Homo sapiens: one gene and its partners. The protein of the gene in region 1 purifies or fractionates together with the protein of each later gene. This does not show direct contact. Each region holds a gene or a part of one and is shown in the gene's direction. Other genes may lie near its edges. The genes, in order: SLC14A2, CALD1, IQGAP2, NAA15, EIF5B, PHF6 and DDX42.

Region 1 (3,500 bases):
CTGGCCAACATGGTGAAACCCCGTATCTACAAAAAATACAAAAATTAGCCAGGCGTGGTGGCAGGCGCCTGTAATCCCAGCTACTCGGGAGGCTGAGACAGGAGAATTGCTTGAACCTGGGAGGAGGAGGTTGTAGTGAGCCGAGATTGCACCATTGCACTCCAAGCTGGGTGACAAGAGCGAAACTCTGTCTCAAAAAAAAAAAAAAAAAAAAAAAAAAAAAGAAGTAGTAAATGGGGCCATTTGAGATTCATCCCCAGATGACCAGGGGACTGGTATACTTAAGCCCAAGAGACTAGGGATAGGGAGAGAGCTTTGACTCTGCACTAATTCACACCAACAACTCAAGAAATCCCTTTGAACATGGGCCCCTTACATCCCAGGGCAGCAGGAGCATACGAAATAGGCACAGCCCCTCTTCACTGGGCATGGGCGTGTTTCTGCAATTCTACTGGAGATGGATGATCTTTAGGAGAAAATAATCAGGAAAAGAATTTCAAAATTAGTACAATAGAGCAGGAGCCACAGTTTTTCTAACCATTGGAAGAATTTGGGTCCAAACCTAGACACTAAGGACTCCTGACAGTCTGGTTCTCACACCCTAGTTTTGTCTTTGATTGCCTGCTGACATCTCTCCCATGCTGTAGCAGAGTCCATGCTGGGACTTGCTTGCCCAAACCATGTATTTTCTCAGGCATTTCTCTGGAGTGTGCTCCTCTTTCTCACCTGCTTAGCCAAGTCCTGACATGGAAGCTGAGCCCAGTCTCCCCAGGGCTGGGAGGGCAGGGCAGCCGCTCTGTGCTCTCTGCACCGCCCTCTTGCCCTCTGCCCTTGTGCCTCCTGCTCAGGACACAGTGCCTGCTCACTGCTTCTCCTGGGCACTCGAATGTGAGCCCTTTGCAGGCAAGGACTGGGCCTTCCAGCAATGATCCCTCCAGGGTAGCCCACAGGCGAACGGTAGATATTCAACAAGGAGGGTTCTTACAAAGAGGATGGAGGAGCTGGTCTGTTTTGGGAGCCCCTTGCCAGACATTTGAGGCCTGGTTTTTGGAGAGACGTGGGACTGATCCAAACAGCCTCTCTGTCCATATTTCTGAAGGAGAAGAGGAGGTGTGGGCAGCCAAGGAGAGTCTGAGTGCGCCAAGCAGATCATTATGTGTTCTTGGAAGCAGGTTTAATGGACTGGCGCTGAGCTGAGCTGGGAACGGGCTGAGGCCCTCAGCCCGGACGTGGCTCGGGCAGGGATTTCACATCCAGTTCTAACAAGTGGCGACGCCTTATGGAAACTTTTGAAAGCTGTTCCGTTTCACACCAGCCAGCTTGTACTTCATCTGGCTGCTCCCACCCTCTCTCCCTTCAATTTGGGAGCACGAGAAGAGGGAAAAGTAAGATCACTAAGCGCCTACTATGTGCCAGGAACCAAGTCAGCAATTTCACTGTCCTGAGAAGCCTACGTTGCCCTTCGGAGACATGGAGGCCCACGCGGCCCCGAGTGGCAGAGCAGGGAGGCAGGAGCAGCCCCACCTCACAGCCTGTGCTCCTTCCGGATGCGGAGACTTGCTCTCCACAGGGCCATTGGTGCTGCATGTCTCGCCCCCTACCCCAAAGCCAAAATTCCCCGTTGTAACAGAGTAAACATTCCCGTGGCAAAGGAACGCTGTATTCCCTAGAGGAGGTGCAAGGCCCTGTTCCTGCAGAGGATACATAGGATTGAGAAACACAACAGCGGGCTGAGGCCCTGGACCCAGGCGCTCAAGGGCCAGCCACTCGGCTGTGCATGGCCCAGCCAGGCAGTCAGAGTAATGGAGAGCGCAGTGGGGAACTGGGTCTAACCTTGACTCTGCAGCAAACTGCTCATTTTCTGGGTCCTGCAAATGTCACAATGAGGTGAGCTTGCTCTGGAAAATGCTGAGAGCAACATACACATGAGAAACAATTCCTATTTTGCTTTTCAAGGACATGATTTATCTGTAAATGGAAATATTGTCTGCATACAGAAGGGACTCAAAGGTGGAGTACCTTTTTGGAGAGTACCCTAGAAAGAACTTCCCTTGTGCAATAATAATAATAAAGGGATTTTTAGGTGTAAGGCTTTCTGTTGGGTGGTATAAATGCAGAAATTAACAAGGTAATGGCCCCTGTTCTTACAGGGATTATAAAGTAGACACATTTTTTTTTCATCAAAAGAAATATAAAAATCTTTAAATTCTTACGGTTAGGAAATAATTTCTGAGTATACCCATTCTCAACTCCTACCTGTATACTTCAGCCCCACCACTTAAAAGAACACTATATTTCCTTGATTATATGATGTATATTATTTTCATATTTTAACATTTCTAAAATCAGGATGCATCTTGAAATTATGAATGGAAGCATTTTCTTCTTTCTTTATGATACATAAAATAGTGATCAATCTTACAGCTGATAACATCTTAGATTCCATGAAATATGTTTAGGAAAAACCTTTATCATTACCACTTTTCAGCTAGACTTTTAATAGATTTCATAGCCACTGAATTTAACACAAGGCCTTTCCGGAACATATCTAGTTCATCCAGTTGTATAGTGTCATGCAGATTGTGTGTCTAGATATCTGATTGCCCCTGCTTACTTTTCATATGGTTGGCTTGGAGGGAAATTTTTACCAAGGGCCAGGGATGCTGTATCACCTCTTGGCCACCAGAGGGAGAGAGCGCATTGGAGAGGAACAGGTTCTGGGGCTTGTCGGATTTCACTGTCTCCTAAACCTTTCCAGCATGCCCCCTCTATGGCAGTGTGCCCACCCCTTACTGAAACCCTACCTACAGGGTCAGAATACAAGGAAAGGCCTCCATTCCGGAGTTATGGCAGCATCAGGGTTAGTTAGATCTGAATGACATTTGCAGACCTACACAAAAATTCACAGTGGTCTAATGAGCTCCTCCTGGGAATGAGAACGGTGCTAGACATGACAGGGGGTTCTGCCTGCAGAAAATGCATGGCTGGTGGGTGGCCCCACGCTGTTCTGAAACCACTGGAGATCCCTGAGATCCACAGAGATTTGTAAAGTTATGCAGAGAAGTGTTCCCTATCTATCAGTCACCTGTAACCTTGCTCACAGTCGCTTCCTCCCCCCCACCTCTTCCTTCCATATTTATTTATTGAACCCTTACTACATGCCACACACTGTGCTAGGAGCTGGGGTCAAAGCAATAGACAGAACAGAGGAGGCCACCGTCCTCATGAAACCTAAGTTCTGGTGGGAAGATAGAAACCATACAAATAAATATACAAATCTGCTATAAGGAAAAATACCTGGTCCCATGAGAGTATGTGACAGGAGAACATGGTGGGTGGATCTGCGAGGGTTTATTTAGCAAGTGATCATTGAGACAAAGCCTGGCAGAAGTGTAGGGGTTGACCAGGAAGAGTGAGGGAAAGGTCTTCATGCCAATGAACCAGCACTTGCAGAGGCCCTGAGGTGGAAAGTGTTCAACACCTTACAAGTACTAAAAGGA
Region 2 (3,500 bases), on another chromosome or scaffold:
TTTTAACCTCTGGGTGGTGGATCCCTGGGAGGCCACAAAGTCATTGCAAGAGGTAAACAAATCTGTATATGCAGCAAGTGCTTTTGGCAAGCTACTCTGAGTAAATAATATATCTTACATCATATGTGCTACTATTTTTCTAATTCTATACATACATTATAATGATAAAATGCTAATTTATTTAAAAGAGTTATTGAATTCATAGTAGCTTTTAAGTTTGTGTTTTTGTGTTTTATTAATGAGTGGACTTAAAACATATAATTATATTATGTGTGGGAAGGTTGGGACAGGAAATTTGGGATCTTAAGTAGAAATTCTTTTTAAAATATGAACCAGTGATCTATTTTTTATTCTCCAAAGCCTAGCCACACCAAGTAAAATTATGTATGTATTTGTAGGTTTCTTCGATTAATGTCTGCCCTGTCTTATTGGTCTGTCAGATATATAAGGACAGGAACCTCTATTTTTTTTTCATTCGTATATACCCAGTGCGTGGCACACGGCAGAATCTCAATAAATATTTGTTGAATGAAATAACAAACCAAGTGACTTGACCAAAGTCATCCAGTTAATTAGTGGTAAGATAGTTCCAAAACACACAGCTCCTAAGTTCCAAGCAGTTAACCTTTTCAATATACCACATTACTTCCCCTGATAGTAAGAGAGCATGTTTTAACAGTTAGCAAATTTAGGTTATACAATGCTGCCCAATCTGCCTATATACCCATGCATCTTAACCAGTATCTTAATCAGAATCAACTGTAGAGCTTTTTGAAAATACACATCCCTGAGACCTATCCTCTAGAGATTCTGATTCGGTAGGTCTAGAAGGGGGTCCAGGCATCTGTAGTTTGTAAAAGTTCCCTGGTGACTCTGATAAAACATCCTGGCTCAGAAACAGTTCTGTGCACCTATCGTTAAAATAATTGATAGTAGATGTATGTAGTTACTTATTCCTCAGAAGCCTATTTCTTTAGTTTTGAATAATTTCTTTCTAAAAATTATAGTTGCATATGCCAAATAATCCGTTTGGCCAGAAGAGCAAAACCTTTAGTTTTGCTTTTTTTTCAGTTTAAGCACAAAGTTATCAACCCTGTAAGGTCAAATTTTTCTGATGAGATTTCCAGTGTTTGCTTTTGTAAAGGACTGGAAATGTGGCAAGAATAAAATTTCTCATGGTATTTCCCACTTCCTTTTCCAGCCATCATTACTAAGGGAAATTTAGGCTTAGGGGGAGGGGTGAATCTAGGAGAAAAAAAATTTTAAGTATTTCTGTTCTTAGGAGGTTTTGAGCAGATATTTCGCTTCCTAGGAAAAGCTGAAGATGTTTTTCTCTGTTTCCACTTTGTGGTGAGGATGCACAAATCCTGAAGAGGGGAGAAGCTTCCTCCACCTCCACCCTCACCCCTACATCTTCTCTAGGGCAGGAGTCATCACAGCCCCTGGTTTAGATGCTTCCCTGGGTGGCCCTTTTGAAAGTATGTGGACCCTAAGAGACAGGAGACTTTGAGTGCATGGATGGGGGATAATTTGCTTTTGCAGAAGGACAGAAAATTTATCTCTAGGTTCTTCCTTTATTCGGCAGTTAGGAATTACATCCTCTGTATTGCACAGAAGAATCTACCATATTCAGAGCACTGAGTACATGGATTATATTCACTAAAGATTGGAGAGCCAAAAGTTTCTCTGCAAGAGTGACCTGATCTAGTAAGAATGTCAAAATTGTTACTATATTTGTACCCATGCTCTTCGGTTTAGAGGGCAGGTGCTTCCGTGTGTACATAGAAGCAGAGCTTGTTGGAGAAGAGGAGCTAAAAAGGAATTAGATTAGAATCCACCTCTGTACAATGGCACCATCTGGACTCAGTCTCCTTCATCTCTAACACTGTCCCCACTTTCTCTGCACCCCAAACTCATACTGGCTCCCAAAAGCTCATTGTTAAACTTTCGAGAATTTTGAGAGCCAGTTGTAAAACACAGCCATTATAAAAACTAAATCATATAAACTTACAATTAAACACATTATATGAAGAGCCAAGATAATAAATACTCAAAACTCTTCCTAATTATTTTGCTATGTTTCACTATTATCTATTCTCTTGAGGTTAGTTACATCTATTGTGGCTATATGGTGGAAATACTGTATAAAATGCTGTGCAACTGAGCTTCTCCTCCCAATTCTTCATTCAGTGATGTCATATTCAGAACTTGAAATTGACCATGATGGAAGTAATTACACCACAGAAATCAGCCCATGCTACAAAGCAGACTCCCCTCCCCTCACCCAAGAACTTGTTGCTAAACATTGACTAGCACATCACTGACCCTAAGGGATGCGGTGGTAAAATTAGCCTCTGCATTGGAGAGCCAAGCGGAATACCTCTGTGGTTCAGTTACATGCATATTCATAATGTATGCTTATGATTGCATATTTGTTTGTTTGCTTGCTTATTTATTTCTCATGCTCCTAGAACATAAGCTCTATGAAAGTAGAGACTTTGTTTGGCTTTTTCAGTGCTGTGATTTGAACCTAAAAATGTGCTGTGTCCTGCACATAGTATTAATAAATGAGTTAAATGAGTGAAAGAAATAAATGTCAGGCTGGTAGTGGTAGCTCGTGCCTGTAGTCCCAGCACTTTGGGTGGCCAAGGCAGGCAGATTGCTTAAGGGCAGGAGTTTGAGACTAGCCTGAGCAAAATGGTGAAACACTGCCTCTACAAAAAATACAAAAATTAGCCGGCCATGGTGGTGTGCATCTGTAGTCCCAGCTACTTGGGAGGCTGAGGTGGGAGGATCACATGAGCTTGGGAGGTCGAAGCTGCAGTGAGCTGAGATTGTACCACTGCACTCCACCCTGGGTGACACAGTGAGACCCTGTCTCAGAAAAAAACAAAAAGTAAAAAAAAAAAAAAAAAAAAGTCTACAATTTCTACTTTAAAAATACCTGAAGCCAGTGTTCATGTTGGAGCTCATTGATTCCTCATGAATTGTATCATTGTTCAGTGTTTAGAACAGTGCCTGGCACATGCTAAGTAGCATGTAGATTTTTATTAGGTAAAAATAAAATAAGTTATCTTCATAACAGCTAATTTTACAGATGAAGAAACTGAGTTACGATTAGATTAAGTAATATAGCTAAGGTCCCACAGCTAGTAAGTAGCTGGGTCAGGATCTAAACCCGGGATAATCTGGAGGCACTGCCCACCTTCTTTACCACTGTGCTATGCTGCCTCTTGCTAGTTACTCCACGTCACTGAGACTCCTCTTTTGTATGTGGCTCTAGAAAGAATTGAGATCTATTTGAGAACAAACTTTGGAGTCAGGAGAACTTGAGTTTGAATCTCAAATTTACCACTTTTTTCACTTACAAAATGGGGATGATTTCTCCTCCACTTTGTAGTTGTCACAACTACTAGAAGTAATATCTTGAAACTGCTTTGCACGTACATGATAGACACTCAATTACAAATGGTCAGCTATTGGCTGTGATTTCCTGTGGA
Region 3 (3,500 bases), on another chromosome or scaffold:
ACGTACTTTTCTTTACAGTTACCAGGCAAGTAACTTTAAGGTGTAAGGTTTAACAATCCAGGTTGGATTGGCTTATTCTGGGTGGGTGGTTGTAGATTTAAGCAACCCTAGCTTCTTGTTTCCTGTAAAAGGATGTCTGTGAAATAAAGTGTACACAGAGAATTATGTAATTATGTGGGTGGTTGTTACAGTACTGTTTGTAATAATAAAAAGTCAGGAAAAGTCAAAATATTTAGCTTTGAGGGATTTGTTAAATAAATGTTTGTATAGCACATAATGGAATAAGTATTTGGAATCGTGGTATAGATATACATTTGTTGGCACAGAAAAAAATGTTCAGGGTATATATTCCAGTTGGAGTTAGGTGCAATAACCCATTTTTCTGGGAAAAGAATGCTCATTACATACGCCACACAGGATCTGTATAGAATGTCGATTACACAAATTGCATTACACCCATCAATATGCGAGGCCCACAGACATACATGCACAGAGGAGATTGGACAGTTATGCACTAAGGTATGAAAATTGGTTGTCCCAAACACCGCATATTCTCACTCATAGGTGGGAATTGAACACATGGACACAGGAAGGGGAACATCACACTCTGGGGACTGTTGTGGGATTGGGGGAGGGGGGAGGGATAGCTTTAGGAGATATACCTAATGCTAAATGACGAGTTAATGGGTGCAGTACACCAGCATGGCACATGTATACATATGTAACTAACCTGCACATTGTGCACATGTACCCTAAAACTTAAAGTATAATAATAATAAAATAAAAAATAATTAATTTAAAAAAAAGAAAAGAAAATTGGTTGTCCTCTCTGGTATTGTTTTAGATTATATGTGATTTTATTTTTCTGTAATGAACATTTGCTTTTTATAATTAAAAGAAATTTAGCTGAGTCTAAATTACCTGGGTCTGCCTCTTATCTTGCCAGAAGAGACCAGAGGGAAGGCCTCAAGTCCTTCCTGTTCCAAGTTGCAGAAGGTACCCTCTGTGAAGGTGGAGCCTCCCCTCATTTAGTAAACATTTTGTTACTGGAGTCAGTGGCAAAGTCCAATTCACTATACAAAGCTTGACTATAGAACCAACTTGGCAGCAAAATTAATGCTTGTACCTAAGCCTCCAGTTAATTTAAAGCCTTTGTGTTTTCAGCAAGTTGCCTTATGATGTGACCACAGAACAAGCTCTAACATACCCAGAAGTGAAAAATAAACTGGAGGCTTCCATTGAGAACCTGAGAAGGGTCACCGACAAAGTCCTGAATTCTATCATTTCTTCCCTTGATCTACTGCCGTAAGTTGTACTTGCAGCAAGTTTAACATTCTTTCCTGGAACGTTCTTGGAATACGATGTAAAATAAGCCCCTGTAGTGAAGACAGCAGTTTTCCCTTATATTGTGTTTACTATTTTAAAAGATTGCCTACATTTACCTTTTAAATTCCTGACTGTTCTCTAAAGAAGGGGCAATACTTCAGTAGCAAACACAGCTCAGTTATTATCATCAGTGGAAGTCCTGTGATTCCATTACCATCTCATCTTATGTTTAATTTTTAGAAAAACTACTCAGCTGAAGTTGACTGGAACAATTGCTGTGTGTTTTTTCCTCACTCCGCCTTTTTTCCATTATTTTCTTTTGTCATCTGTTTTATATGTAGTTATGGATTGAGGTATATAGCCAAAGTACTGAAGAATTCGATCCATGAGAAATTCCCCGATGCAACAGAAGATGAGCTATTAAAGGTAGATTTTCAAGGGTAATCTCACCATAGCTTCTCCTGGGGGTATGAATCAAAATTACCAACATATAACTTTGTAAGATTATTCCCCATGTATGATTATTTATAATAAGCTGCAGGTCTTCTGTTTCTAATGACTCTCAAGATAATTGATTAAGCTGAGGTTAATTTGGAGATCCTAGACATTATTGAAATTCTTTGCATTAGAGCATTTTGGGGGCAATGAGCATTTTTTCATCAAAAATAACTTTGCAAATTATGCTATTAATAATGTGTGATTATATTCATTGCCTTTATTAAACTCCTTGTTAGGATTTACATCAGAAAATGATCTGCTTTCTCTTGGGAAATGTAGGAGAATATATATCTTTAAAAAAAAAAAGAAAACTAAAACTCTTGAGTTTTCTCTCTTAAAAATGGTCATGCACTTCTGCGTCACTCCAGATTGTTGGAAACCTCCTGTACTATCGGTACATGAATCCAGCCATTGTAGCTCCAGATGGCTTTGATATCATCGACATGACAGCTGGAGGTCAGATAAATTCTGACCAAAGGAGAAACTTAGGATCAGTGGCCAAGGTTCTTCAGCACGCAGCCTCCAACAAGCTGTTTGAAGGAGAAAATGAGCATCTCTCATCTATGAACAATTATTTATCAGAGACGTATCAGGAATTCAGGTGAGAGGGGCCCTTAGTTTTGGAGAAACGTGCAAGAATGGTAGGCAAGAATAATATGTGCTCTGTGCCCAGAGCTAGAGTGGGCATGGAGGACAGGAACCCCAGGTGGTTACAAGCATTTCTTCTACCAGCCACTGGGGAAAGAGGAGAGAGGGAAGTGCAGGCAAGATTGCCTCTGTCTGGCGATCCTATCGCACCCCCACCACAGCACTCCTATTACACTGAGTCTTTTCTGTGTGTATTATTTCTGCTGCTGACAAAATGGCATACTTGTTCTTCCTTGTATGCTACAGGCTTCCAGTACCTAGAATTTAAAAATCAAAATAGCAGATTTCTGCTTCTTTCAACTTAAGAAGAGAGGAATCATTTTTAAAAAGTTTTCCGGTGAGGAAGAACTTGCTTATCTACGTCAGATACATTTGACCCTTGATTAACACAGGTTTGAACTGCTCGGGTCTATTTATATATGGATTTTTTCAACCAAAGACAGAGAGAAAATACAGTATTCATGGGATGCAGAACCCACATATACAAACAGATGACTTTTCACATACATGGGTTCCACAAGGCCAATTTCAAACTTGAGTATGCACAAATTTTGGTGTGTATGGGGGTCCTGGAACCAATCCCCCAAACATACCAAGGAACGACTGTAGTAGGAAATGGAATACTTGATTTTGAAAGGTTAGGAAAACCCAGATTTTATATTTGTTGATGATTGTGTATGTGAATATGTTCTGTTCTATTCTCAAGCCTTTCTTAATGACACATGTAAGAAGATTTAATTCTATTGATTTTGTGTTTCCAAATTATATCACTAATCATTAACAAGAAAGGCATGAGTCTGGTAGTCAGATTCACTCCTCCTGGAGCTCTGAGGAAACACTTTCCTCTTGTCATGTTTGTTCTCATGTCTGCCATTTAATCAACAGGCCATAGAAGTGTAACATCAGTTTGGCCTCTTTTAATCCTCACTTGGAAACTCATTTCTCATTCCTCGGTCTCCCTTGGAGTGAGTGACTTACTAGAAAACAAAGGTAGTTCATGATTATTCATTTCTATTTAGAATTTGTGG
Region 4 (3,500 bases), on another chromosome or scaffold:
CTAAAAAAATAATGTGCATAGTCTGGCTTACTTTTAATTTTGAAATAGTTTCAAACTTATAGAAAAGTTGCAGGAATAGCACAAAGAACTCTACATAGGGGTTCATTCATACTAAACTAATTGTTAATATTTGGTGCATTTACTTTAAAATTTGTGTATCTATTTATCTATTTTAATTTTCTTCCTTAAATGTTTGAGAGTAATTGCAAGACATCATGCTCCTTTACCCCTAAATGCTTTAGTGTGTATTTTCTAAAAATAACTGTATAGTTTTCAGTTCTCTAGATAGTATTATAGGGATAGATTATAAAAATTAGGAAATTTAACACTGATAGACTGTTATCTAATTAATCCCCAGCCCATATTCAGAATTTACTAATTGTCCTAGTTATAGCCTTTCTAGCAATTTGATTTCATTGCAGGATCCAATTAAGAATCATACCTTACATTTAGTTATCATTTCTCTTCAGCCTCTTTTAATCTGAAACAGTTTTGAAAACTTCCTTTGTATTTTATGACATAGACATTTCTGAAGAAGGCTGTGCTTTTGTAGGATGTCCCTCAATTTGGATTTTTCTGATGGTTCCTCATTCTTAGATAGAGTTTTATAATTTTGGCAGGAAACCATATAAATGATATTGGGTCCTTCTGCGTTCATTACATCAAGAGGCACATGCCATCAGTTCGTTCCATTTGATTACATGGTGAAAGTTGTATTTGCAGTTGTAAACGTATTTTTCTCTCTTTGTGTTTAATATGCAGTTTGAGACTGAATAGCCTATTGCTCATCAAACTTTCACCATCTAGTTTTAGCATTCATTGATTATGATTCTTGCCTGAATCAGTATTACTATGATAGTCGCAAAATGGTGATTCTCTTAACTCTAGTCATTCCTTGTAGGTTTATTATTTGGCATTCTACTCCTGAGTAAGAGCTTTCCCTTCTTCCCCATATTTATTGTGTGTAAGGACTTATGGATTATTATTTTATTCAACCTGTTATATCCTAATATTGTCATTATTTACTCAGTTGCTCTGTAGATACTTAAGAATTTTTTAAAAATTAGTTTTATCAACCGGATGTTATCCTTTGACTTCTTACATGTTTTTGAGTATTGTGAACAATTTTCTGATATGAAAATAAAATTCTTACTGTCAGTATTCCTTATATCCATATACAGACATCCCCTGACAAGGTGGATTATGAATATAGTGAACTACTCTTATATCAGAATCAAGTTCTTCGGGAAGCAGGTCTCTATAGAGAAGCTTTGGAACATCTTTGTACCTATGAAAAGCAGATTTGTGATAAACTTGCTGTAGAAGAAACCAAAGGTATTTTTAAAAGAATTGTCATTTATTCTAATATTGAAATATGACAGAGCAAGGCTGAAAAATCTAGTTGCTGCTGACAGTTTCATATAATTCAGCTTTTTGATGATAGGAAATCTATTTCTTACTCGTGTACTTTTAATAGTTTATGATGTGGGAAAATGTACATTTAAACAATATTGTAGATAGAGGAGAAAGTTGATTGTGAACAATGAAAAGTAGTTGAATGAAATGACTCATAACATTCTTTAAATAAAGTATCTTTGTATTAAAAATATTATGGAATTTGATCAAAACACAAGAGACAATTAGTTTTATAAGACAGAGGATGACATTTCTTAGAAACAGTTTATTAATAAACTATAGTGTATGTAGTATGTGCCAGATTTATTGCTAATAATATATATTGATGAATCAGTCTTTACTAAAATACATATAGGATATTTCTGAGAGTCTTTATGGTTAATCTGAATGTCTTCGATGACACAGAAAGAATATGAGTTCTGGAAGAAAGGGAGACCAGAGATTTGGGTTCATAATATGTAGATTGTGATAGGAGGGGTAGATCCCACTCAGCAGAGGGCTGAGAAAAATGAGTCTTAACAGTTTTAGAAGTTGAGGGCGTGATTATAGAAAATAAAAGAAGAATAACAAGTAATGAAAGGACAAGTGATTTTTTAAAAAATTACCTTCTGAAATGCTGCTTTGTCCTTGCTAGTCTAGGGAACTGAAGTTTGCTGGTTTCACATTCCCTTGGCTCACCTTGAGGTTGAACACAAAAAGTATAATATACATCCATGTGCATAATAGGTATAGCCATTGTTTGCCAGATAAACTTTTGTCGGAGGATAATGGTACTGATAAGAAAAACTGGAATTCTAAGACTTCTGGAGGGAGCTCTCTTGTGAACTGCAGATCCAAGACAACCTTCTTTCATTTGAAGTAGTCATTCTTTAGTAGTCTGTTAATCACAAAGGAAGGAAATTTCTGACTTGCTGGAAAGATGGCAAGTCTGGAAAAAACTTGTCTCATTGGCCACTAAATAGCTCTGTGAACAGAGTCAAGGCTTGGGCCTCAAGTTTCTTTATGGAAATAAATGACAAATTATTTCATTTGATCCCTTTGATAACTTCATTAATGAGGAAGAATGGCAGATAGGTAAAGTTAGATAAAGGACTCAGAGCTGACCAGTGGATTTTTAGCAATTTAGAAGTCATTGGTGACCTTAACAAAAGCACTTTCTGAGCTTCTGGAAGAAGGATGGTAAAAGCCCAAACATCAAGTCTATTTAAAAGAGACTGAGGCCGGGCGCGGTGGCTCAACCCTGTAATCCCAGCACTTTGGGAGGCCGAGGCAGGTGGATCACGAGGTCAGGAGATCGAGACCATCCTGGCTAATCTGGTGAAACCTCGTCTCTACTAAAAATACAGAAAAATTAGCCAGGCGTGGTGGCAGGCGCCTGTAGTCCCAGCTACTCGGGAGGCTGAGGCAGGAGAACGGCGTGAACCTGGGAGGCGGAGCTTGCAGTGAGCTGAGATTGTGCCACTGCACTCCAGGCTGGGCAACAGAGCAAGACTCCGTATCAAAAAAAAAAGGGAGTGGGAGTAGAGGAACTGAAGATAAGAAGCACACATGACTCAGTTGAGGAGTTTTGCTGTAAATGAAACAAATGGGGTGCCGGTAGGTGAAATGGGATGCAGGCTCAAAAAGTTTTTGTTTGTTTGTTTGTTTTTCATAGCGTGTATTTGTGCTGACTGGGGAGTGATCCAATAGAGATAGAATATTTGATACAGTAGAGAGAATGTCATGTGGTAGATTGATGTCATGTGAAGGATTAATTTAGGTAAGAACATGAATAGTTCACATCAACAAGTAGTGGTGGTGTGTAAGTGGCGGGCAAGTAAATGTGTAGATGTAATGCATATTTTGGAGTTTCCTCTAATTGCTTCCGTTTTCTACATGAAATAAGAAATAAGGCTATCAGCTCATTCCACAAAATATGTATTGAATACCTACTTTGAGTTAGGTAATGGGACAGGGTGTATAAAGAGAATAGAAGGGAAGTGAGGGTAGAATCAATCTTTGGAAATTCTAGCAATCTTTAGAAATTCAAGGCAGTGTTGCTGGTAGGGATAGTTGGTGGGAGAAGATAAGATGGTCAAGATCAC
Region 5 (2,719 bases), on another chromosome or scaffold:
TGCCTGTCACCAGGTACTGCCTAGGTTCTAAGCCCCAGACTGTGGCTGACATCTTCAGCAGCCAAGCTCAGTGTTTTAGACTAGGAACAGAATGCTCCTGTGATGCAGCTTCTTTTGGAGGTAGGGCTTTAAAAGAGAAGAAAGCAAAGACTTGGGAAGCAACAGAATGGGGAGGAGGAGGTTAAGAACAAGGAAGAAGCGCTCTGGGCATGGGGTGGCCCTGGGCTGCAGCACCCTGCCTGCCCCTCTCCTGTGGCCGCTGGGGAAAGCTGCTTTCCTCTAATGGGAGAAGCCTGATGTTCAGCTGCAGTTTTTCTTTTTATGTTTAAGTGATTCTGTAAGCTTAAAATTCTTTTCTTTTTTCCTTTCAGGCACATAGCAGTATTTCCCTGCAAGATAAAAATCCTCCCTCAGTACATTTTTAATTCTCGAGATCCGATAGTGATGGGGGTGACGGTGGAAGCAGGTCAGGTGAAACAGGGGACACCCATGTGTGTCCCAAGCAAAAATGTAAGTTCTAGTTGTACATTCTGTGGGTCATTTCTTAAAGCACTAAATGAGTGTCCAAGAGTCGTACCAACACAGCTTTGTGCCTGTAGTTCACAGTACTGTGCTGTGTATTTAGTGTGGTCTCCACCTTCTTAACAAATGTTTCAGTGTTTTTACCTCAGTAGGAAGAAAATGTGGTAACTTTAAAACAAGCAGAGCCTGTCACCTTCTGTTGTGCTTCAGTATTGGTAAATATCAGTGCTCCATAGTCAGTGTTGACTCAGTGCTGATCTCAGTGCTTCAGTTAATTGGGGCTCCAAGGCACTTTACATTATTGCCTTTTATTTTATTTTGAAAGGTTTCAAGCCTGTGGAAAAGTTTAAAAACTAGTATAATGAACACTCATGTTTACCTTCCCTTTCTGTCAGCATACCTAAGAAAAATTAATAATATTTCAACAATATCCTATAATTTGCAGCCCTCAACATTATTTCACCAGTTATTCCAAAGATGTTTTGGTAACTCTCCCCACCAATCTGGCCCAGTGCCCTGCAAGCTGCATTGCACTGGGGCTTGTTTTGTGGCTGAGCCTCAGTCAAGAACAGTCCTCCATTCTTTTTGAAGTGTCCCTGTTGTTTTGCAAATCCCTCCTCCATTTGGATTTATCTGTTTCTCTCCCTCCCAACTAGACACAGGTTAGAATTATTGGAAAGACACTCATGCAGTTTCCCTGTGTGCCTGCCTCTTGCATGACCCAGCCTGTCTGACTGCTGCTGATGCTCTGATTTCCTGGGGAAAGTGCTAGACGCCAACCATCTCCATTAGAAACTTGCCCCTTTATAATTACTCTGTAATCTGTCTGGTACCTGGAGTTCCTAATGGATATCCTGTTTCTCAACAGCCTTTATCCCAGTGCCTTTAGTACCCACTGGCAAGCGTTGCCTAAGTCAACTATTACGTAGATGGTTGCAAAATTGTGGATATACCTGTCCCCCCATTTCTTACAAAGAACCTCTTCCCACTGACCTTTTTATTGAGTCATAGACTCAGTGGGTTTTTTTTTTTTTAATATAATCCATTACCTTTATTCTTTTGATACTCAGATTTTCTATTGTGGTCAGTAGGAGCTCAACTGGCTCCTGTATCCTTGACACACAGCAGTCTGAGCATCATCTTCCTTTCTGGTTGAGATGTTCCAGCCTCATCTAGTACTTTCCCTGGCCCAAACCTGGTTCTTGTAATGGGCAATGGCACTTAGAAGTTGTCATTGCTTTTCTACCATTTCAGTGGACTAAGCCTGGACATTTATTTGTGTTACTTTCTATGTGGCTTTGGCCTCCTAAACCAACCAGAGCTCTCCCTGTTTTCACTCTTACTCTCCTGAATCTTTTTCTCCACAAAGGAGTCAGGGTTTTTTGCCCCAAACTCTGAGATCACATCACTCATCTGCTCACAGGCCATCATTCTTAAAATTTCAGGATTGGTCCTCACTCTGACTTCATTCCCATCAGCCACTTCAAGCTCATTCCTGACTCAGACCCTTTGTGCCTGCTGATCCCTCCTATTACGGCACCTGTCACGTGAAATGGTAGAGCAAAAATAGGAAATGACATTGGGTCAACAGGGCACTTGGAATGTTTTGCAAAGCACATTATCTCCTGTCATTCTTACAACCATCATGAAGGGAATAGGGTGTTGGTGGTGCCAGCCTAGTTTACCAAAATGTTACACCGTGAGTGATGAAAGGATCGCACTGCCATGACTTTTAAAACAGGCTTTTGCTCTAGTTCTTACTTCAGCTATCCAGCCATGGCGCCTGTGATTGGCATGAATTCTTCTGCATGCATTTTAATTTGTTCTTATTTTATAGTTTGTTGACATCGGAATAGTAACAAGTATTGAAATAAACCATAAACAAGTGGATGTTGCAAAAAAAGGACAAGAAGTTTGTGTAAAAATAGAACCTATCCCTGGTGAGTCACCCAAAATGTTTGGAAGACATTTTGAAGCTACAGATATTCTTGTTAGTAAGGTAAGTATTTCAGCAAAAGTGGCACACTTTAAGCAACAGGGAATCACTCTTCTTGGGTCACCTGTACCTGTAGCTCCTTGGGCTTCAGTTTGATTGTAGAATCTGATGGGACTGGATCCCCCATTAGGGCTTGACCTCTAGCTGGGCCTTGTCTGTTGAGGAAGTTGCTCTATCAGGAAAGCAGCACCAACAGAGAAA
Region 6 (3,500 bases), on another chromosome or scaffold:
TTCTGAGAACCATAGCACTATGTTTTTATTTCCTAGTCCTTAAAATAAATGCAGATATAAAAAAGAATGATACTTACTTGAAAGTGATTGTGCTGTAAACCTTATTACCCCTTTATTTATTGCTTGACATTATGACTATCCCTGGAAAATATTTCTGTATCCTGACTTGTTAGCATTTTGTCACTTGACACAGCTTGTATAGTCAGAACAAAAGCAGTTTTGGTCCCTAATGTTGAAACATTATTAACAAATGCAATGCCTAGTGTTACACTACATGAAGCAACAGCATACATCTGTCAATATTGCGAAGTTCAGTGGAGATTTAATTTATTTGGACCTTTTTTTTTTTTTTTTTGACAGAGTCTCGCTCTGTCGCCCAGGCTGGAGTGCAGTGGCGTGATCTCGGCTCACTGCAAGCTCCACCTCCCAGGTTCACACCATTCTCCTGCCTCAGCCTCCCAAGTAGCTGGGACTACAGGCGCCCATCACTGTGCCTGGCTAATTTTTTGTATTTTTAGTAGAGACGGGGTTTCACCTTGGTCTCAATCTCCTGACCTCGTGACCTACCTGCCTCGGCCTCCCAAAGTTCTGGGATTACAGGTGTGAGCCACCGCGCCCGGCCTTGGACCTATTCGTTAAAGCATCAGAACTTTGTATGAGTTTTACTATTATAAATTGTTTTGATTAATTTTTAGTGTTATAGTGTAGGGAGATAATTTTTTCCCCAAATGTAGTGTGTTACAAATAACGAAATTTGTTCCTTGATCTAGGGAATGGAACAATACTGGGAATTGAGAACACAAGCTTTAGTGACAGACTTGAGTTTGAATCCCAGCTCTGTCATTTACTAGCTAGGTGATCCTGATTAAGTTATTTACTTCTCCAGGCCATGTTTTCCTCACCTGCAAAAGGGGTTAGATAATGACAGTACTTGCCTCCCAGAATTATTGCCAGAATTAAAAGAGGAAGTATATAGGATTTAAGGTGGTGCTGGGCACATGGTTAGGACTTGATAAATAGTAGCCACCACTTATTGTTTTTGTTTGTTTTTGTTTTTGAGATGGAGTCTTGCTCTGTTGCCCAGGCTGGAGTGCAGTGGTGCGATCTCGGCTCACTGCAGCCTCCACTGGGTTCAAGCAATTCTCCTGCCTCAGCCTCCCGAGTAGCTGGGACTACAGGTGTGTGCCACCATGCCTGGCTAATTTTTAATTTTTTTTTTATTTTTAGTAGAGACAGGGTTTTGCCACATTGGCCAGGCTGGTCTTGAATTCCTCACTTGAGACCGTCTGTCCGCCTCGGCCTCCCAAAGTGCGGGGATTCCAGGTGTGAGCACTGAGGAATAGTGGCAGAAGGGAAGAACTTTTGCTCCGTTTCCTTCCCTTAGAATGTCAGTTTAAACAACTTATATAGGGGATAGGAATGTAACATACGTTTAGGTTTGAAATAATTTTTGAAACTCCTTTTAGCCTTCAGTTTTGCTTCTTTCATTATATCATTTTTACATGATGTGCTATCAGGTAACCAAAATTCTAGATTTAAGTTTGATTCTCTACTATTCCCTGTGTCAATTTGTCTAAGCAATAAAAGGGCTATGAATCAAATAGGAGGGGGGAAAAAGAGTGAAGAGCTTAATGTAACTAGATAAACTGCATATAAACTAGGTAATCAGCTTCCCTAATTGACATTTTTTTTTTTTTTTTGAGATGGAGTTTCGCTCTTGTTGCCCAGGCTGGAGTGCAATGGCGCGATCTCGGCTCACTGCAACCTCCGCCTCCTAGGTACAAGCGATTTTCCTGTCTCAGCCTCCCAAGTAGGTCAGATTACAGGCATGTGCCACCATGCCCAGCTAATTTTTTTGTATTTAGTAGAGACGGGGTTTCACCATGTTAGGCTGGTCGCGAACTCCTGACCTCAGGTGATCTACCAGCCTCGGCCTCCCAAAGTGCTGGGATTACAGGCGTGCACCACCATGCCTGGCCCCTAATTGACTTTTTAAGGCATTTTATCCCGTGAGCCTGTTTGCTTTGGCTCCTGTTCATCTGGATTTCTAGGTGAAAAGTAGGTCATGAACACTCATTCAAAATCATCGAAAACTGGAGTACTGAACCCTGAGTGCTTTCAAGACAAATTTCAATCTGTACCTGGTGTTGACTCCAAAGTTGCTCGCTTGCCCCAAAGAAAAGAACAGAGAGATAAGGAGGCTAGGGCTTGAGGTTAAAGTGTACGTATCAACAGCCAGGTGGGTCAGAGTTGAGGATGAGAGGGCTCAGTAGAGCAGGAGGTGTGAGTGTTTGGTTTTTATGTTCTTGCTGCCACAGGCAATTTTCCAAGGTTCATGTCAGCCACAAGGATCAAAGGAGGAAAGCCATTCTGCATGAACATTTTCATCTCCTTTACACGGTCTTTAATTATATAGCACCAAGATGGACCAGGAAAAATTTGCCAGAGTACTAAGGCTTTTATGATTTGATGCCCTGTTTTTGCAGTTTAGACAGATATATATTTTTCCAGTATGATTTCCAGTTTCTACTGAAGCCATATGGAGATACCACATCTGTACCATCTATTCTTACTTAACTCCAGTCATCTAGCCAAGAAATGCAAATTTCCAAGTAAAATTATGAGTTAGCACTGCTTTTTTGAATTTAAGGAGATACTTGAAAGAAGGATATTTGAAGAATTTACCGTTTCTGGATGAAGCTAGCTGGTGAGATTACTAAGGGTATCTACTATCTACATTGGATAGCTATTCTTCTTTTTTTTTTTTTTTTTTTAAGATGGAGTTTCCCTCTTGTTGCCTAGGCTGGATTGCAGTGACATGATCTCGGCTCACTGCAACTCCGCCTCCCAGGTTCAAGCAATTCCCCTGCCTCAGCCTCCCCATTGGCTGCAATTATAGGCGCCCACCACCACGCCCAGCTAATTTTTTGTATTTTTAGTAGAGACAGGGTTTACCACGTTGGCCAGGCAGGTCTCAAACTCCTGACCTCAGGTGATCCGCCTGCCTCTGCAGATAGCTATTATTCTAATTGGTACCGGTGTCAGATTATATCACAGATTACAAGAAGAGAAAGAGTTCAGAAGGCCATTTAGTTCACCTGTCTTACCCCTATGCAAGATTTCCTACAAGCCACTCAAGATAAGATTTTTGGCCTAAGGATTGGCTGACACGTGTAATCCTAGTGCTTTGGGAGGCCGACTGGGAGGATTGCTTGAGGCCAGGAGTTGAAGACCAGCCTGGACAACAAAGTGAGACCCCTATCTCTACAAAAAAATTTAAAAATTTTGAAATGTGGCATGTTCCTGTAGACCTAGCTACTCAAGAGGCTGAGGTGGGAGGATTGTGTAAGCTCAGGAGTTCGAGGCTGTGGTGAGCTATGATTGTGCCACTGTATCCATCTAGCCTGGGTGATAAAGTGAGGTCCTGTCTCAAAAAAAAAAATTTTTTTTTGCCCTGTTTTTAAATATATCAAGAAATTGTAATTCTACCCAAGTAACCT
Region 7 (3,500 bases), on another chromosome or scaffold:
AAAGTTTATAGAGAAAAAATATTGACGTACACTTGTGTACTTTACTTGAAGTTATTCCTGTATCTTGAATACTTTAAGAATAGAGATGGCAACAGTCTTTGCATTTGCAATAATTAAAAAGCATTCAGTTTGGTAGAATAGTATTTGGTCTTTGACTATAAATAGTTGTTTAGTAAACACAAGGAATGAATTATAGTAGAGTTTAGGGGAGCATAATTATTAAAGTTTAGGCTCATTGTTCTGAGTTTGTCGCATAATTAATATAAAATAGGTTTATGCCTATATGGTTGATTATGAGAAGTAATGGCAACTGTATCATGAAAACTATGTATAGTTGAACCTTTGAACAACACAGGTTTGAACTGCGTGAGTCCACTCATGGGGATTTTTTTCAACCAACACAGGTGGAAAAATAATATTCACAGTATAAAAACCTGTGTATAAGGAGGGCTGTAATAATACCTAATTTTATTTAGCTCCAGAGTGACATTGTGCTGTAGCAGCCATAGTCAGAACTTGAAGTACTTTATTTTCTGGGAAAGAGAAGTCTCTTTGCCTTGATGAATAAACTCCTAAGGCTTTTTCTGCCAGTCATGATTGGACTTTTTTCTCCCTGTGCTTGGCAGTCAGTGCTTCAGTCCTTTACCAGGGTTTCTGTTCCATATGGAGATTTAGCTGTGGTTTTGGTATTCACTGTATGTCATATCCCCTTCCACCTGCCCTGCACTGGTGGTGTTGCTTGCCGGTTGCCTTAGGAATAGCAAGCGCTCTAGGTTAGGCAGAAAGTCTGATTAGAAACAGATGGTTGTGGGAACTAAGCAACCATATTTTCTCTATAGCTCCTGAGACATACAGCAAGTGGTGATGGTCCCCTTCTCCATGTGAACTGTTTAAGCGTTTTATTCCCAAACTCATAAAGGAGTTAATGTAGTTTTCACTCTGTCCCCATCCCTAAGGTAACTGCTTTTGGCTGAAAACCATTTACCCTAGAGCTAGAAACTTTGGGGACAATAAGAAGGTTGTGACCTTTCTAGTATATGCCAAATACAAGATTTTTTTTTTCTTTTTAGTATGAAATACTTTTCACAACCGCATTGTTTGTTGTATGGATTCACAAAACTAGGACCATTTGGTATCTGTCTTCAGAAAGTTTTTACGTCTGATATCCTTGTTGGTAACCGCTGTTTCTAGGGGTATCATATCATCCCATTTAAAAGAAATGCAAACTGCAGATTATAGAGTGCAGCTACACATATATATAATGGGGTGGATAGTTTATAGTGTGCTCATTGCTGCTTTGTTATTATTAGTGTTGAGAGTTCCTGTGCTGTGTGGAATTCAACACTAATCTGCTGTAAGTATGGAGCTGGGTATGTGGAACATTTGCAGGGAAGTTTGTTTCTCCGCTTGTTTTTCCAGGGGTATTCGAGATGACATTGAAGAGGAAGATGACCAAGTGAGTTCCTATGCAGTATTTCTATCTTTTATTTTTATCCACAAAGTCTATACTGGGGACAAGCTAGAGCTTGCCTTCACTCAAAATGGCCATTCCTGACATTCAGCAGGGAATGTCATTTGATTTGCTCCTTTTGTACCTGTGTGACCAATTGGTAATACATAGATTCACATGGCTTTCCCCCATATTGAAGATGGAATTTTTGATCAACTGTGACATCCAAAGCAAATACGAGCTTTATTCAGCTTGCTTCTTTTTAAATCCAAAATTAATGTTTATTCTGATAAATCAAGTGGTAGAGTAGTGTGGGATCTATTGATGGCCTCTGGTAACATCTAACCTCTGTCTCTTAGTAAGTGTCCTGTTTGTGGTTCTTGTATTTCAAGCTGGAACATTAATTACTGTCCATTAGTCTCTTTTCCCCCATTGTTCAGTTGTGGAGTGATGAGAATCAGAGTGAGTGGTAGCCGTTTCCAGGTTTGTGACCTTTCTAATTAGCGTTAACTTCCAAACTTGGATTGTTAAAGCCACAGCATGTGTTCTATGGCTCTGGGCAGGGTTGATAGACACCCCACTCCAGGAAGGCTGTGGAACAGACAGATTTGTAAGTCTTCTATTAAACAAGTTGCAACATTTAATAGTACTAACTGTTTAATTCATTTCTTCTGATTGTTCTTCTGAATATTGCTATTATTAAAGGAATCATTGCTAGTAAGGATCTTGCCTTACTTGGTAGGTATGTTAACTGTGCAATTATCTGGTACACTATGTGCGCTAATTACAGGAGCAGAAACATTCTCAATTGTACTTGGGTGTGATTATGTTCTTGTGCTTTCCTGCAGGAAGCTTATTTTCGATACATGGCAGAAAACCCAACTGCTGGTGTGGTTCAGGAGGAAGAGGAAGACAATCTAGAATATGATAGTGACGGAAATCCAATTGCACCTACCAAAAAAATCATTGATCCTCTTCCCCCCATTGATCATTCAGAGGTATGGTGTTTCTTGCTGAATTTTACTCTTGTTTCAAGCTGATGCTTTACTTCAGCTTTAACATTTAGATTTTCTCAGTAGTGGAATACTCTTACATCATGAGCGTATGCATCTTGTCATCTCTACTAAGTGGTTGAGCCACAAATTCCATGAGGCTTTATAGCCTGTTTTGTTCAAAAGTATAACCAAATCACTTACATTTGACTTTAGAATTAAAACATTTTTTTCAAGTAATTGTACTTGTTTTCCAGAACCAATATTTCTTTCTTTTCTTTCTTTCTCTTTCTTTCTTTTCTTTCCTTCCTTCCTTTCTTTCTTTTCTTTCCTTCCTTCCTTTCTTTCTTTTTCTTTTCTTCTTTCTTTCTCCCTTTCTCTTTCCTTTTTTTCCTCTCTTTCTTCTTTCTTTCTTCTCTTCTCTTTCTTCTCTTTTATTTTCTTTCTTCTTTTTCTCTCTCTCTCTGTCTCTCTGTCACCCAGGCTGGAGTGCAGTGGCACAGTCTTGGCTCTCTGCAACGCTGACTCCTGGGTTCAAGCAATTCTGCCTGCCTCAGCCTCCTGGGTAACTGGGATTACAGGTGCCCACTACCATGCCTGGCTAATTTTTTTTAAATATTTTTGGTAGAGATGGGGTTTTGCCATGTTGGCCAGGCTGGTCTTGAGCTCCTGACCTCAGGTGATCCCCCTGCCTCGGCCTCCCAAAGCGCTGGGATTACAGGCGTGAGCCACCGCACCCAGCCTTGACATCTTTCTTTCAAACTGGGAACGTTTTGGCCTGTGTTTACTGTTTTTGTTGTTGTTGCTATATTGCCCAGACTGGCCCCAAATCCCCTGGCTCAAGTGATCCTTTCACTTCAGCCTCCTGAGTAGCTGGGACTACAGGTGCACACCACTGTACCTGGCATGCCTTTATTTTTTTGTTTATTTTTTTTCCAGACGAAGTCTTGCTCTATTGCCCAGGCTGGAGTGCAGTGGCGCAATCTTGGCTTACTGCAGCCTCTGCTTCCCAGGTTCATTTTTAGTAGAGATGGGATTTTACCACGTTGGCCAGGCTG

The links.
Region 2: the proteins of SLC14A2 (region 1) and CALD1 purify together in Homo sapiens (affinity purification with mass spectrometry; one large-scale study listed by BioGRID and IntAct). This does not show direct contact.
Region 3: the proteins of SLC14A2 (region 1) and IQGAP2 purify together in Homo sapiens (affinity purification with mass spectrometry; one large-scale study listed by BioGRID and IntAct). This does not show direct contact.
Region 4: the proteins of SLC14A2 (region 1) and NAA15 purify together in Homo sapiens (affinity purification with mass spectrometry; one large-scale study listed by BioGRID and IntAct). This does not show direct contact.
Region 5: the proteins of SLC14A2 (region 1) and EIF5B purify together in Homo sapiens (affinity purification with mass spectrometry; one large-scale study listed by BioGRID and IntAct). This does not show direct contact.
Region 6: the proteins of SLC14A2 (region 1) and PHF6 purify together in Homo sapiens (affinity purification with mass spectrometry; one large-scale study listed by BioGRID and IntAct). This does not show direct contact.
Region 7: the proteins of SLC14A2 (region 1) and DDX42 purify together in Homo sapiens (affinity purification with mass spectrometry; one large-scale study listed by BioGRID and IntAct). This does not show direct contact.

What each region holds. Positions count from the first base shown.
Region 1 is NC_000018.10:45,618,476-45,621,975, forward strand, and holds part of SLC14A2 (urea transporter 2), read left to right. Parts: intron 1-3,500.
Region 2 is NC_000007.14:134,786,134-134,789,633, forward strand, and holds part of CALD1 (caldesmon), read left to right. Parts: intron 1-3,500. UniProt on the Homo sapiens protein: Actin- and myosin-binding protein implicated in the regulation of actomyosin interactions in smooth muscle and nonmuscle cells (could act as a bridge between myosin and actin filaments).
Region 3 is NC_000005.10:76,672,285-76,675,784, forward strand, and holds part of IQGAP2 (ras GTPase-activating-like protein IQGAP2), read left to right. Parts: intron 1-1,164; coding exon 1,165-1,305; intron 1,306-1,667; coding exon 1,668-1,752; intron 1,753-2,192; coding exon 2,193-2,425; intron 2,426-3,500. UniProt on the Homo sapiens protein: Binds to activated CDC42 and RAC1 but does not seem to stimulate their GTPase activity. Associates with calmodulin.
Region 4 is NC_000004.12:139,343,005-139,346,504, forward strand, and holds part of NAA15 (N-alpha-acetyltransferase 15, NatA auxiliary subunit), read left to right. Parts: intron 1-1,181; coding exon 1,182-1,335; intron 1,336-3,500. UniProt on the Homo sapiens protein: Auxillary subunit of N-terminal acetyltransferase complexes which display alpha (N-terminal) acetyltransferase (NAT) activity. The NAT activity may be important for vascular, hematopoietic and neuronal growth and development.
Region 5 is NC_000002.12:99,396,389-99,399,107, forward strand, and holds part of EIF5B (eukaryotic translation initiation factor 5B), read left to right. Parts: intron 1-371; coding exon 372-510; intron 511-2,359; coding exon 2,360-2,521; intron 2,522-2,719. UniProt on the Homo sapiens protein: Plays a role in translation initiation.
Region 6 is NC_000023.11:134,379,812-134,383,311, forward strand, and holds part of PHF6 (PHD finger protein 6), read left to right. Parts: intron 1-3,500.
Region 7 is NC_000017.11:63,798,170-63,801,669, forward strand, and holds part of DDX42 (ATP-dependent RNA helicase DDX42), read left to right. Parts: intron 1-1,419; coding exon 1,420-1,456; intron 1,457-2,298; coding exon 2,299-2,448; intron 2,449-3,500. UniProt on the Homo sapiens protein: ATP-dependent RNA helicase that binds to partially double-stranded RNAs (dsRNAs) in order to unwind RNA secondary structures. Unwinding is promoted in the presence of single-strand binding proteins.